Linked DNA regions of Homo sapiens: region 2 is linked to region 1. Evidence: fine-mapped expression QTL. A gene starts in region 1. The other region holds a variant in brackets. All regions are shown on one strand. Distances are from middle to middle. Region 1 holds the start of DDX56 (DEAD-box helicase 56). Region 2 has its middle 11 kb from the start of NPC1L1.

The links. PIP is the estimated chance that this variant, and not a neighbour inherited with it, causes the effect. A credible set is the group of variants that fine-mapping cannot tell apart.
Region 2: its variant is the best candidate, but not a certain one, in a credible set for the expression of DDX56 in whole blood (TOPMed, PIP 0.70).

The regions. Positions count from the first base shown.
Region 1 is chr7:44,572,563-44,575,372 of GRCh38, forward strand. It overlaps DDX56 (DEAD-box helicase 56), which reads right to left and starts at 1,346. Exons shown (of 14, transcript NM_019082.4): 1 at 1,274-1,346; 2 at 1,021-1,182; 3 at 328-488; 4 at 12-182. The coding sequence starts at 1,333. RefSeq lists an enhancer at 963-1,112.
Region 2 is chr7:44,550,835-44,553,644 of GRCh38, forward strand. No RefSeq gene overlaps it. Among named protein-coding and RNA genes, the nearest start is that of NPC1L1, 11 kb to the left of the region's middle. The variant A/C (reference allele first, on the strand shown) is at 1,143.

The sequences.
Region 1 (2,810 bases):
CTCTGCCTTACCAGAGGAGACTCTTGAGCTCTTCTTCAAAGCCAAAGGAAAAAAGAAGGTCAGCTTCGTCCACCACCAAAAGCTCCAGGGAGTCACGAAGTTTCAGGCTGTCTTGCTGCAAGTGGCTTAATATGCGAGATGGGGTCCCTACTACCACATCTGGCTTCTCCATCAGCACAGCTCTGGAGGTGGACAAGACATCAGTATCAGGCAGAATGTAGCAGCTGGGATCTCACCCTGGATTTGCTCTCTTTTTTGCCACACACAAACCCAACCCCACAACACTGTGTAGCTTCATTCAGGTACAGCTTTGCTGCTTTTACCCACCTCTGAGAGACTGAGTCTTCAGCAGCTGAGACATTGGCCACTCGGACATCCCGAGCACAGTAGGTAGCCAGCTGCTGAATCATGGACTGTGCTTGCCGTGCCAGCTCCTTGGTAGGAACAAGAACAAGGCCTCTCACTGCCTGTTCTACCACCGGACCTGTCTGTAAGAATATGAATTAAAGACTTTAGCCAGCAGTGCACATCACTGTGTCCACGTGTCTCTACCCCTTCCAGCCTACCTGACCCATCTGCTGCAACACTACTTAGCAGTACTTTGATCATCTATCACTCTGCCCGCCTCAGAATGCAGAGTGGAGAGTTCTTTCCCCAGGCACTGACCCTCAAAAAGAATAACGTACTCTGATGTTTATGAAGCTACTTTAAATATACTAGTTATGAAGCTAAATTCTCACAATAATTCTGTAAGTAGAAAAGATAGATGTGCTCCCTTTTTATGTAAGAAAGAAAAGAAAGTGCTTTGTCGAAGATTACGCAAAGGTTGGTGGTAGCAGGGCCGGACAAGGATCCAGGTAACCTGAACTCCAGCCCAGAGTGTTTGCCACAACAGCACCAGGTTCTCAGGCCGGCCTGCACGGGTACAGGGCCAAGAGAAAACCTCAGACAAACGGGAACCGCCCTTCCCAGGCTTTTGGAGCTTGCCTCCTTCCTCCCCTCAGCTCTCTCGTTACCCACCGCCTTCCTATGGAGCAACAGCTGCAGCATCGGAATAGCATAAGCGGCCGTCTTCCCGGAGCCCGTGCGGGCCCGAGCCAGGAGGTCCTTCCCTTCTAGGGCCAGTGGGATGGCCTTCTCCTGGATCAGCGTAGGTCGCGACCAGCCCAGATCGGTGACAGCCTAGGAGACCAGGAGTGCGGTTTAAGCGGCGTGAAGAGCGATGGCGCGCCCCGCAGAGCCCGTAAGCCGGCTCCCCAGCCCTCGCGTGTACCTGAAGGAGCCGGGGATCGAGGCCCATGTGTTCGAAGCCCAGTGCTTCAGAGTCCTCCATGGCGCTGCTCAGTAGCGCAGCACGCACGCGCTGCAGGAAAAACGCCACCGACGCGAGCGGGAGCAAAGCAACAACCAATCGGCTTCGGAGACGAAGTCACTTCCCGGAAGTGCTGGCGGCCTAGGCTTCCGGTACTCGGACGGAGCTCTGCGACTGCGCAGTCCCTAGGACTGGGTCTAGTAGGAGGCGGTGGAGCGGCCGTGCTGGGGTCGACGGGGTACTTTGGACTACAGAGCCGCTCCACTGGCTCTTCCGGCGTTCCCGGACGCCGCTGACGCACCTGATTCTCGCGACCTGCAGGAGAAGCCTCGGCCGGGGCGAGGGCCGAGGTCGTGACGGGCATGACCGTCTCTCTGCTTGGTTAGGGTTAGTGTCCCGCCGGGCACATCACCCTATGAATGGAGCCACTGAGATAGACTGGGCTGAGGAGAACCGGTTGGAATAATGAGCCATGGCAGCAACTGCCTGAGAGAGAGGACCGGCGGGTTGCTGTAGGGCTCCCTAACCGGACTGCCTGTCAGAAACCTGCACAGCTTGGTTTCTGTTCTTTGTGTCCCAAATCTGACTCGGGTCACCAGTTAAGACCCGTGTCAGACTTCTGACCTACAGACTTGCGTCGTTTTAAGCCAGTAAATTTGTGGTAATTTGTTACAGTAGCAATAGGAAAATAATACAGGTGAGGACTAAGAATCCTAATCACAAATCTTTTTTTTTTTTTGAGACATGGTCTGACTGTCACCCAGGCTGGCGCGATCTCAGGCTCAAGTGGTCCTCCCACCTCAGTCTCCTGGAAAGCTAAGACTACAGGCACGCACCACCACGTCCAGTTAGCGTGTATGTATGTATGTACGTACGTGTGTGTGTGTGTGTATGTGTATATATGTAACTCCTCCTCCCCTCCCCCCTCCCCTTCTCTTCTTTTCTTTCTAGATGGGGTTTCGCCACGTTGCCCAGGACGGTTTTGAACTCCTGGGGCCAAGCGATCTGCCTTCCTCGGCCTCCCAAAGTGCTGGGATTGCAGGTGCGAGCCACTGCTCCTGGCCCATAAGTCTTTCAGTGTAGAAGAGGGAAGCAGAAGAGGTCAAAGTGGTGCCATGTGAGAGCTCAACCCACCCTTGCTGGAGGAAGGGAGCCAGAGCCAAGCTGGAAAAGGCAAGGAAACAACCTTTGTGATTACATTAGGCCCATCCAGATGATCCAGGATAATTTATTTTACAGTCATCTGATTAGCAACTTAATTCTCTTCTGTCATGTTAGGTAACATATTCATATGTTTCAGAGTGGTAGGCCATTATTCTACCTACCATACCACCCAACACAAATCTACATTAAGACTATATCTGAGTGTTGCACAGGAATCTATGTCAACAAGCTTCCAGGATGATCCTGTGCATCCTATCTGATGCAGCCCAGCATCTGAGTACCAGAGACTAGCATCTGGCTGTTAGGTTAGGAGAGATCAGCTCATGCACCAACA
Region 2 (2,810 bases), 22 kb before region 1:
ACTCCTGACCTCAAGTGATCTGCCCACCTCAGCTTCCCAAAGTGCTGGGATTACAGGCATGAGCCATTGCACCTGACCACAAAATAGAATTTAAATAAAGAATTGTTACAAAAGACAAAAATGACATTATACATTACTAAAAGGGTCAATTCATCAAGAATAAGTAATAATATATATGCACCAAACAATGTGACCTTAAAATATGTAAAGCAAACATTACATCATTGAAAGGAGAAATAGACAATGCAACAATAAGTAGTTGGAGACTTCAATACTCCATTTTCAATAATTGATGGAACAACTAGCCACAAGACCAGTAAGGAAATAGAAGTCTTGAACATTTATAAAACACTTGGACACTTGTATATATACAACATTCCACTCCATAACAGCAGGATACACATTTCTTTCAAGTGCATATGGAATATTCCTCAGGACAGACAGTACGTTAGGCGACAAAACAAGCCTTGTTATATTTTAAATAATTAAAATCATAGAAAGTATATTTTCCAGTCACAATGGAATGAAACTAGAACTCGATAATAGAAGGGGCTGAGCACGGTGACTCACACCTGTAATCACAGCACTTTGGGAGGAGAAGTTGGGAGGATCTCTTGGGCCCAGGGGTTCAAGATCAGCCTGGGAAACATAGAGAAACCCCATCTCTAAAAATAAAAATAAGTTGGGTGTGGTGGCTCACACCTGTAATCCCAATACTTTGGGAGGCTGAGGGAAATGAACTGCTTGAGCCCAAGAGTTCAGAACTTCCTGGGCAACATGGTGACATCCCATCCCTACTAAAAATACAAAAAATTAGCTGGTGTAGTGGTGTGCACCTGTAGTCCCAGCTTCCCAGGAGGCTGAGGTGGGAGGATCACCTGAACCTAGGAGATCAAGGCTGCAGTGAGCCATGATCGCACCACTGCACTCCAGCCTGGGCCACAGAGTGAGACCCTGTTTCAAAACAAAAATTAGCCAGGCATGGTGGCACACACCTATGGTACCAGCTACTCAGAAGGCTGAGGCGAGAGAACTACTTGAACCCAGGAGATCAGTGCTTCAGTGAGCCATGATCACACCACTGCACTCCATCCTGGCTCAAAAAAAAAAAAAGTAAATAAATTACAGGAAAAAAACCCTGA[A/C]AATTCATGATATTTGGAAATTAAACAACACATGCTTAACAACCAATGGATCAAAGCAAAAATCACAAAGGAAATATAAAAATACCTTGAGACAAATGAAAATGAAAACACAACATACCAAAACTTATGGGATGCAGCAAAGCTGTGCTAAGAGGAAAATTTTTAGCCATAAACACAATCAAAAAAGAAGAAAGCACCCTGGCGCGGTGGATCATGCCTGTAGTCCCAGTGCTTTGGGAGGCCAAGGGGGCAGGATTGAGGGAGACCAGCTCGGGCAACATGGCTAAACCCTGTCTCTACAAGAAAGATAGGAAAAATTCGCCAGGCATGGTGGCACGTGCCTGTAGTCCCAGTAACTTGGAAGGCTGAGGGATGAGAATCACTTGAGCCCAAGAGGTCGAGGCTACGGTGAGCTGAGATTACAGCACTGTACTCCAGCTTGGGCAGCAGAGCAAGACCTTGTCTCAAAAAAATTTTTAAAAATTAAAAAAAAAAAATTTTTTTAAAGAAAGGGCCAGGTGTGGTGGCTCATGCCTGTAATCTCAACACTTTGGGAGTCCATGGCAGGAGAATCATATTAGGCCAGGAGTTCAAGACCAACCTGGATTAACATAGCAAAACCCCATCTCTACAAAAAAGAGAGAAGGAGGAAAGAAAGGAAGAGGAAGAGAAAGAAAAAAAGAAGAAGGAGGAGGAGGATGTTGGGAAAAAGCTGAGTGTTGGGAGGGAAACTGAGGCAGGACTTGCATAATGTCCTCTGGAATGTGTCTAGACTTGCTGGCTCCTTGCTTCTAGCCCTCCTAGGCTCCTATTCCCATTATCTCAAGTAGCAGAACATGTTCCATATAAATGCTAAACTGTCACAGCTGTAGATCATGCGCCTGCCCTTTTGACCTCCACATTCTCACCACCTGTTTCTTTTTTTTTTTTTTAATACTTTAAGTTCTAGGGTACATGTGCACAACGTGCAGGTTTGTTACATATGTATACATGTGCCATGTTGGTGTGCTGCACCCATTAAGTCGTCATTTACATTAAGTATATCTCCTAATGCTATCCCTCCCCTCACGCCACAACGGGCCCCGGTGTGTGATGTTCCCCTTCCTGTGTCCAAGTGTTCTCATTGTTCAATTCCCACCTATGAGTGAGAACATGCCTCACCACCTGTTTCTTTGTTGGATTACCAATAAATACTGTGGACTCCCAGAGCGCAGGGCTTTCGCAGCCTCCATGATCACGATGGCCCCTTGGTGTCCCACCTTTATCTCTCAAACTGTCTTTGTCTCAATCCTTTGACTCCACCGGACTTTGTCACCCCCACGACCTGGTGTTGGGTCTGATCACCCCAACAGGAGGAGGGGGAGGAGGAGGAAGGGCGAGGAGGAAGAAGGAGGAGGGGGAGGAGAAGAGAAGAAGAAAGATTTGAAATTTTCTAACTGCACACCTTAAGGAGCTAGAAAAAGAAAAACTAAACTCAAAGCTAGAATTTTTAAAAATAATAAAGACTACAACTGAGATAAGTGAAATAGGGAATAGAAAACTATAGAGAACAGCTATGAAACAAAAAGTTGATTTCTTGAAAAAAATATTCTGAAGGAGCAATCTATAATACAAATAAAATAATACAGAAAAATAAATTTTAAAAGAAAAAAATCAACAAAATTGACA